Linked DNA regions of Homo sapiens. The protein of the gene in region 1 purifies or fractionates together with the protein of each later gene. This does not show direct contact. Each region holds a gene or a part of one and is shown in the gene's direction. Other genes may lie near its edges.

Region 1 (5,280 bases):
ACCTCCCCGATTTCTCATGGAGACTCATGTCCAGAGACTTACCGTATGCCGTGCCTGCCTTCTTCTCAGAGGGCTGGAGGTTAGAGCATAGTCATGGCTTCTGATTCCAGTAAACACTCAAGGAAAATAATAGGAATACAATGACTTTCTGACTGCCTTGCTTTACCGAGGGACGGGAACTGGCAGGACCCCCGTAACTCTCTGAGCTGAGCCTCGGGGCTCCAGGAAGAGATTTGCCACCCTGTGGTGGCCCCTGATATGTAGCTCTGTCTGGCGTCTTCCTCCTGTGTGACCCTTCGGGAAGAAGCAGGTTTAACCCTCCTGCTAGCTTCTTGTTTCTGCTTTTTAAAAATGACATTTAGAAGGTCAGGTTTTTTCCTGTTTCAAACAAAATTCATGTTTATTGAGGAAAACTCAGCAAATCAGAGGAACAAAAAATAATCTCATTTTATAACCTGCATTTTCATGTACTATATCCTGGGCATTTCCCAGACCACTAAATACTTCTTCCCCATGTCTTTATTTTATTTTGTTTTGTTTTATTTTTTGAGATGGAGTCTTACTCTGTTGCCTGGCGCAGTCTCGGCTCACTGCAACCTCTGCCTCCCTGGTTCATGCAATTTTCTTGCCTCAGCCTCCCAAATAGCTGGGATTACAGGCGTCCGCCACCATGCCTGGCTAATTTTTGTATTTTTGGTAGAGACGGGGTTTCACCACGTTGGCCAGGCTGGTCTCAAACTCCTGACCTCAAGCGATCTGCCCACCTTGGCCTCCCAAAGTGCTAGGATTACTGCACCAGGCCCACATGTCATTATTTTAAATGACTACATCAGATTTTATCTGATGGACATATATACATTATTTAATATTCCCATTGTTGGACCCTTACATGAGTTCCAATTTTTTCTAGACAAATATCCACATAGGTAAGACTTAGAAGAAATTCATATTATTTCATTAGGATAAATTTCTAAAAATGGGAGCAGTGGGCCAAAGGGCATATACATCTTTTAGGTTTTTCATATAAATTGCCAATTTATATTCCCATGAGAAGGGTATGAGAGTACCTGTTTTCTCAAGCCCTTTGCTGACAGCTACGTTAGTGCTTAGGCCACAGTTTCTTTAATCATGGGTATCAAAAGTTGCTGTTATTAGCTCCCTACTACGTATAAGATCTCTACCAGGAGATAGAACAGAGAATTTGAATGCCCCCCACCTTATTTTTTTCTTGAGACAGGGTCTCACTCTGTTGCCCAGGCTGGAGTGCAGTGGCCTGATCACGGCTCACTACAGCCTCAACCTCCCCAAGCTCTGGTGATCCTCCCATTTCAGCCTCCCAAGCAGCTGGGAATTCAGGCATACACTGCCGCATCCAGCTAATTTTTATATTTTTTTGTAGATATGGGGTTTCCCCATGTTGCTCAAGCTGGTCTCAAACTCCTGGGCTCAAGTGATCCTTCCACCTCGACCCCCTAAAGTGCTGGGATTACCGGCGTGAGCCTCCACACCCAGCCTCTTATTTCTTCCTTGACGTGGGCTCCTCCTCTTGTGCTGCCTGTGGCATCCTGAGAGGAAGCTGTTGTCCTTCTTCAGGTGGAGGGAATAGTAAAGAGGCTAATAAATTGGTGGCCTGCACCACAGGACTTTATAAGAAACCTTTTGCATCTTTGGATCTTCTAATAAATGAAGGTGCAGCACTGCTTTTTGACACGCAGGTACATCTGTGTATTGGACACATTTCCCTTCCAAATGTTTAACTCCACTTTACAAAGGTTTATTTGACAGCATGTGCTAGATTCAAGGCTCTAGGTTAGAGAACCCAGACCCCAACGAACTTACAGTTGATAGAGATACAAAAATAAGATAGTGCTAAGCATGGCAGCCTATGATCAGTGTAGCCAGGAGCTTCCGAGGAGAAGATTACATCTGAGCACTTTTTGAGCAGCTCCTTAATTCAGAATACCTTCACTTGTGCTGTCGTTATGGGATGATATGGCATAAAAGCACCAGGACTCCCATAGCTCTGGGTTATTCCACCTTCTAACTATGTGGCTTTGGGTAAGTTACCCCTTCTGAGCCCTATTTCCTCACCTATAAAAGCAGGATAATCCCATTTACCTTGTGATCATTGTGGGAACTAAGTGTGAGAATGAAGGTCAAGGGTCTGGAAAAGCACAGGGGTAGGCCGTCCACACAGGGAAACTCTTCTTTTTAGCAGGTGCTCTCTCCGTTTTGCAAATTGAGGTTCAATTTGCACAGTGCTGTGACATTTTTCAAAGCTTCCTCCTATCTCATTTCACCCATTCTCCCAGTAGCTTTGATGTTTGCCAAGCAGGTGGTAGTCTCCCATTGCAAAAATAAGGCAATAGGTGCAGAGAGGTTGAGTGATTTGGAAAGATTAGACAACTAGTTAATGGGAAAAACAAAACTAGACGATAGTATTTTTACTTATAAGCGTGAACTAAGATGCTTTTTCCAAAACTACTACATGAATTGTTCTTTTTTTCTAAATAACTATTACCTTAGAGTTTTCTATTAATACCCAGATTTTCTTACCATATTACCTTGCAGCTTCATTTTTTTTTCAGCCAAACACAAACAGGCACACACACCCACGCACAAAATTTTACCTGAACCAAAAGTGAATTTGTTCATGTTTGACCTTATTCATTCTCTCATATCTATCTTGTAGGATCTTCACCTGGATCCAAAATGCCCCTTTTGCCCATTGTTGTTTTCTAGCACAGATGGAACCCCTCCCCATCTTTTTCCACTTGACCTGAGCACCTTTGGACAGCCCCTTTCCAAAAGAGCTGTTTCTGTTTGGCCATCGACAGCCTCTTTCATCACTGAGCCTCAGCCTGGCTGAGACTGGTTGATCAAACGTGGGCCACCTGATCCAAGCCCTCCCAGTAAAGCCAGGAGGTCATCATCTCCCTTTGTTGTTTACCAAGCAGTACAGACTTCTCAGGTCTGGCCTCTACAGGCAGCCTTGATTCCTTAGGAAAGGAGGCCAGCTGGTAGGCAGCTGGATGTGTGAGGTCAAATATTGGTAGTAATGGTAGTAATTGGTAGTAATATGGTAATTCCTATAATTTACTGAATAGCTAATAATATTCTTGACACTCAGTTGTATTATCTGTCTCCTTTAATCTTCATGCTACCATATGCCCATTTCACAGATGAGGAAACTGAGTCTTAGAGATGTATATATGTTTCTTCCTTAATGCATAATTTTTCAATAAGGAATTACTTTCCTCCATGTCCCACCATTCTCTCTTAGCTGAGAAGTTAGGAGCAACCAAGTATCAAGTTTCTCATGTGCAGAATTTAATGAGTACTAAGGGGATATATTTTGTTGATCAAAGTGTATATTTGTTTTGCAATGAAAATAATTGGAACTTGTGTTCATTATATAATTCTGGCTGAGTTATTTTTATTTGGTAAGAAACATGATTATTTAAATATTTATTTGTACATGTATTCTCTGCCTTGTTCCAATGAAGGTTTAAGCAACTTCCTTGACTTGAATAAAACACGGGACCCTTATTGCATGAGTGGCCCCATCCATGTTCCAAATGACCCACGTGTATAGTCAGCTGCCAGCTTCAGCCACCGGAGCCATGGCCTGCCTTTTGCACATTGTGGTTTTTCTTTTCCTGATAATTTGACTTCAGTCATCAGAAGCACAAATTAAATGTAAATTTCTGGATTTAAAAAGATTTCTTTGGTCCCTAAATGTTTCCCAAGTCATAGAGTCCTGAGTCAGACTTCAATCTTTTTATTTTCTGCCAGAAAGATGAGGGGTAAGAAGGGGTAGGAACAAACACATCTTATTCACAAACAACAACATCATCAGTAAACAAATGTGGAAAAACTGTCCATACTCATAATTAAAGTAATGCAAATTAAAGCAACAAGTCAAATTTTTCACCTATTAAATTAGCGATACATTTTTAAAATGATACAGCTCACAAGTATCGTGAAACTGGTAATGCATCCATTGTTGGTAGTTGGTGTAAATTGGAAAGCAATTTGATAGGATGAATAAAAACCCTTGAAAATGTTTATATCTGTTGTCCTAGTAATTTCATTCCTGGGGATTTCCATAAAAAGAGATAATATGAAAGAAAGAAAAACTGCAGTATATATCACTGGCATTTTGAATGTTTAAAAAAAAATTAGAATCCTAAATGCCCAATAGTAGTAGAATATTGAATCGTGGTATATTAAATTATTGTATATCCGCTCAATGAAATATGCATTCAGTAAAATTATTTTTGTAATGACTTTGTAACAACATGAAAATGCTTATAATATAGTGGGGAAAAGCAGGATATAAAATTATGCATGAGCTGTGATTGCAAGTAATTTTTAAACGTCTGCATGTGGACAAAGTAAATACATAAAAATGAAAATGGCTGTGTAAGAGAGTAGGATGAACAATAATAATTGTTTTCCCCACTGTTGTGAATTATGATGTTATCTTTATAACTTCACATGGATGGTTTGGGTTTCTCTAGTTCTTAAAAGTCAAAGAGCCAAGTTAGCCCTCCATTCCCTCCATCTTCATCAAGAGGTCAGGCTCAGAATGTCACGGAGAGAGTCGCCTGGCAGGCCTCTTCGTTGTGGGGTGAGAGGGAACATGGGTGCCAGAACCCCAGTGCCAACCGCTGACTATCCTTCTCCCTACAGGACATTGCCGAGAATGGCTGCGCCCCCACCCCAGAAGAGCAGCTGCCAAAGACTGCACCGTCCCCACTGGTGGAGGCCAAGGACCCCAAGCTCCGAGAAGACCGGCGGCCAATCACAGTCCACTTTGGACAGGTGTGTACCCTGGCCCTCCTACCTGTCTGTTTTGTTTTTTTTTTATTTTTGTTTTTAGCAGCAGTAGCACATGCAGCAGACGGTTTTTCATTTCAGTTCTCTTTGGCAGTGCAGCTCCATGGAGGTTTTCACATCTTTAAATGTTTATTTGGTGCAAACATGTTTTGCAGGCAAATTTTCAAAAATTTTGAGGAGACAGCACGGCTGAGGTCATAAATGAGCGGGACTGTTGAATGAAGTCATTAAATGCACTGCTGCCTCCCGTACTCCAAGGCACTCTGCTTAAGGTGCCTCTGTTAGCTAAGCATCTCATTAGAACACTTTAGCATCCCGGGCCCTTCTTTGCACCTTCAAATAAAAGGCAACAAGCGAAGTCTTAAAAAAAAAATCAATTAGGAGTTCTTTATTAATGTACTTCCTGAAAATCAATATCAGGAGTCGTGCTTCTGAGAG
Region 2 (4,415 bases), on another chromosome or scaffold:
AAGAAATGGAAGACGGCCGGGATAGGAAGTTGGGGAGATGAGCAGACTCAGATGGCTCCAGCTCACAAGCTCAGGTTTATCTAAAAGTGCTAGGAAAGCACGAGACCTGTGCTGTCCAAATCAGTAGCCACTGGCTATATGTGGCTATTTAAAATCAAATTAGGGACAGCATGGTGGCTCATGCCTGTAATCCCAGCACTTTGGAAGGCTGAGGTGGGAAGATTGCTTGAGGAGTTCAAGATCAAGCCTGGGCAATGTAGTGAGAACCCATCTCTACAAAAAAAAAAAAATTTTTTTTTTAACTAGCCAGGCATGGTGGCATGTGCCTGTAGTCCCAACTACTGAGGAGGCTGAGGCAGGAGGGTCACTTGAGCCCAGGAGTTCAAGGCTGCAGCGAGCTATGATCATGCGATCACACCACTGCACTCCAGCCTGGGTGACAGATAAATAAAAATTAAAAATTAAATTAAATTAATTGCAATTAAAATATAAAATTCCATTTTTTTTTTTTTTGAGATGGAGTCTCGCTCTGTCACCCAGGCTGGAGTGCAGTGGTGCGACCTCGGCTCACTGCAACCTCTGCCTCCCGGGTTCAAGTGATTCTCCTTCCTCAGCCTCCTGAGTAGCTGGGACTACAGGCACATGTCACCACGCCCAGCTAATTTTTGTATTTTTAGTAGAAATGGGGTTTCACCATGTTGGCCAGGATGGTCTCGATCCCCTGACTTTGTGATCCACCCGCCTCAGCCTCCCAAAGTGCTGGGATTACAGGTGTGAGCCACCACGCCCAGCCTAGAATTCCATTTCTCTGTCACACGGTGATCACATTTTAAGTGTGCTCAATAGCCACATGTGGCTAGCAGCTAATATATCAGGCAGTGCAGACATGGGACATTTGTATCACTGCAGAAGGTTCTGCTGGGCAGCACTGCCTTAGAGAATTCAGAGTCAGAGGGCACTTACTGTCCACACTGCTGAGCACATGTCAGCTCTACAGATATCCTCTCTTCAACTCTCAGGCTCCCCAAAGAGAAGCCAGCACCTGGGCCCCAGTGACATCTACCTGGATGACTTGCCCTCCCTGGACTCTGAGAATGCAGCGCTTTACTTCCCCCAAAGGTGCCTGGGTTCTGGATGCCAGGGTGTCTTGGGTCTGGGCTCCTGGGGCCAAGGGTCCACTATCAAGGGCCTGTGAGGAGGGAGGACCCATCTCCCGCCCTCCTCGTATTCTTGTCATTGTTGGCCCCTTTGCCTGCAGTGACTCTGGGCTGGGGGCCAGAAGATGGAGTGAACCCAGCAGTCAGAAGTCCCTGAGGGACCCCAACCCTGAACATGAACCTGAACCCACTCTGGACACAGTGGATACAATAGCACTGTCCCTCTGTGGTGGACTGGCTGACAGCCGGGACATCTCCCTAGGTATGTTCGACCATGGCCAAGCCCTTTTGAGGGCTGGTGCTGAGCCCAGAGGATGGGGAGGGCAGGGAAGACTGTGAGGGTGGGGCAGTAGAGGTGAGAGGCTGGGCTTCCCTGCAGCTCTCTGCCCTGTGCAGTCCACACTCCGCCAGCAGGGGCTGGACCTTCCCAAGTCCCCATGAAGCAAAATGCTTGACGCTAAGTTGTGAGTTATCCTGTGAATCCTGGGGTGGGAACAGGTGTAAAAACCACAGGTAGGGAGGAGCACTGCCAGGTTACAAAGCCAACCGACAGGAGGTGAGCAGCAGAGTGGGGAGCACCAGGGGGCTGGGGCAGCGGGTCACATGGGATGTGCCAGCCTCACCCCTCACTCTGCCTCTGTGCCCAGAGAAATTCAACCAGCACAGCGTCTCTTACCAGGACCTCACCAAAAACCCCGGACTTTTGGATGACCCAAACCTAGTGGTGAAAATCAATGGAAAGTAAGTCCCAGAGCTGGGGCTGCTGGCAGCCGGAGAGTCATTTCCCTCTTCACAACCCTGCAGCTGCTGCAGCTTGATGCCCTGTTCTGTCTCTCTAGGCATTATAACTGGGCTGTGGCTGCCCCCATGATCCTCTCCCTGCAAGCCTTCCAGAAAAACTTGCCCAAGGTAATGGTTAGAGCACCACTGCCCCTGCTGGGGAAGGTAGCCATAGACTCAGGGCACGGAGACCCTTAGCAAGGAAGTGAAGGGTGAGCAGAGATGGGCCTGGGAGCCAGGGGCTAGCTGGCTGCAAGACTCACTCTGGGAGAGGCGACACACGTCCCTGAAGCCTTGCCTCACCCTTCCCTGGTTTCCTGGCCGTGGCTGAATCCTGTTGTATTTAAACTTGACTTCAGAGGAGCTCAGGACAAACCAGAGGGGAAGAAAAATCCAACAGATGCTTAAACAAGGACATGTCTTTAGCAGGAGGCCTTTGCATCTGAAATATGGGGAAGCCTTTGGATCTGAAATACGGGGTTTGGGAAATGGAAGTTGCACCCTTCACCTTGCCTGAAGACTATTCCTCCAGGCTGGGCTGAAGGGTGCTTACTTTCTTTATCTGCACACATTTCTTGAGTACCTACTATGTCCCAGGCCTAGGCTGGGGACAGTCATGAATAAACGAAACAAAATTATCCCTGCTCTCAAAGGAAGACGAAGTTAACCAAAGACTCATCCAGATGAATATAATTCAGTCCTGAGCACTGGGAAGGATGGGTGTGCAGTGCTTGCAGAGCCTATGGCAAGGGGGTTTGATAAGCAAGTGCCCGCTGTGCAGAGATTGAAGGATGGGTGGGCCTTGAGCTGGCCAGGGGTGGGGAACAGCATGTATGATGCCCAGAGGGGGAAAGGAATGAGGGTATGCCTAGCCTCTTTACTCTTCCCAGAACCTCTTCCCTGGTCTTCCCAGCCACCTTCCCCTACTCATGGAGGATGGTGCCCTCCTGGGCAGTGCCAGCCTGTGCCAACCTGCACCTGCCCCTCTGGGAGCAATCCAAGGCACCACACTGACCTGGCATGGCCTATTGTTCTTGGCTTGCCCAAAGAGCATCACTAACAGATGTTGACAGCTGTCACTGCCATTGGGTGACAGCTTTGTCCTCTGGCTGGTACAGGGTCTGAGGTAGGACCCAGAGTCTGTGGGAAGGAAGAGGGTCCCTTCCCTGCTTGGATCTCCTCACCTTACCCAGACAGACCCACCGCTTGAGGCCCCTGAGAGACCCCTACCCCACCAGCCTGTTCCCAGCTCAAGGGGGCCCCCTGGCTATTCCCAGCCCAAGCCCACATCCTCCTGACTTGGGTCTGTAGGATGCTGGTGTGTCCCCCAGATGGGACTTGGCCTGGCCTCTCCCTGGGGTTATCTATAATAGCATAGATCTAATCAGCATTTTTTCACAAGGTCAACTTGCCCCCAACCAGACAGTTATGGTAACATACAGAAAAGGGGGTTGTTCATGGAATAGGATCACCAACCTTAGGAGGTTGCCTGGGGCAGTCTTGGAGGTTGAGGGGAGTACCAGCTAAAGATTGTTCTCCCTGCTGCCACTTGGTCACAGCATAGGGAGTACCAGATCTTGAGAAACTCCCAAAGCATTGCTTTTAACTACTCTAGTAAAGGAATGGATCCACAAGATTTGGAGGCCAGGCTGAGGCTGGGTTAGAGCTAGGGACCGGGGCTGGGGGCAGGAATAGCCCTTGGTCTTTTGAGTATAGCTCACCCAAGTCATTGCTTGGAATCCCAGGATGGAGGTGAGCACACTTCCTTGGCCTCCAGATGTTGACAGCACCTTACCCTAGGGTTGGCTCAGACTCTGGGCTCATGCGTGGAGGGTCCCAAGAACAACGTAAGGTAGGAGGTTTATGTGGTGCAGGAAACACTGCCATGGCTTTCATCTGCCCACAGAGCACCATGGACAAGCTGGAGAGGGAGAAGATGCCCCGGAAGGGTGGGCGATGGTGGTTTTCCTGGCGACGCAGGGACTTCCTGGCCGAGGAGGTGGGTGGTCACAGTCGAGGGCCAGGGCCAGGGCCAGCACAGGGCGGGAGGTGGGATTCACTAATGGATGTTCTTTCCACAGCGCAGTGCCCAGAAGGAGAAGACTGCAGCCAAGGAGCAGCAGGGGTGAGTGAGACCCCCTATTGGGGCTCTGCAGGGGGAGCCTGGGAAAGATGGCCCTGGGTGCAGGTGGGTGGCAGGGAGGAGCCAGCACCCTGTCTCCAGCTGTGGGTTTTTTTTTTTGTCATTCCTCAAGCACCAAGCACTTCTTTTTTTGTTGTTTTTGTTTGTTTTTGAGACAGAGTCTGGCTCTGTCACCCAGGCTGGAGTGCAGTGGTACGATCTTGGCTCACTGCAACCTCCACCTCCCGGGTTCAAGCGATTTTCCTGCCTCAGCCTCCTGAGTAGCTGGGATTACAGGTGCCCGCCACCACACCTGGCTACTTTTGTATTTTTAGTGAGACAGGGTTTCACCCTGT

Evidence for each region.
Region 2: the proteins of DENND1A (region 1) and LPIN3 purify together in Homo sapiens (affinity purification with mass spectrometry, with the first as the bait; one large-scale study listed by BioGRID). This does not show direct contact.

What each region holds. Positions count from the first base shown.
Region 1 is NC_000009.12:123,439,907-123,445,186, reverse strand, and holds part of DENND1A (DENN domain-containing protein 1A), read left to right. Parts: intron 1-4,695; coding exon 4,696-4,827; intron 4,828-4,997; coding exon of another isoform or gene 4,998-5,018; exon of another isoform or gene 5,019-5,280. UniProt on the Homo sapiens protein: Guanine nucleotide exchange factor (GEF) regulating clathrin-mediated endocytosis through RAB35 activation. Promotes the exchange of GDP to GTP, converting inactive GDP-bound RAB35 into its active GTP-bound form.
Region 2 is NC_000020.11:41,350,802-41,355,216, forward strand, and holds part of LPIN3 (phosphatidate phosphatase LPIN3), read left to right. Parts: intron 1-1,019; coding exon 1,020-1,119; intron 1,120-1,258; coding exon 1,259-1,419; intron 1,420-1,536; coding exon of another isoform or gene 1,537-1,598; exon of another isoform or gene 1,599-1,621; intron 1,622-1,804; coding exon 1,805-1,898; intron 1,899-1,996; coding exon 1,997-2,066; intron 2,067-3,843; coding exon 3,844-3,936; intron 3,937-4,018; coding exon 4,019-4,062; intron 4,063-4,415. UniProt on the Homo sapiens protein: Magnesium-dependent phosphatidate phosphatase enzyme which catalyzes the conversion of phosphatidic acid to diacylglycerol during triglyceride, phosphatidylcholine and phosphatidylethanolamine biosynthesis therefore regulates fatty acid metabolism.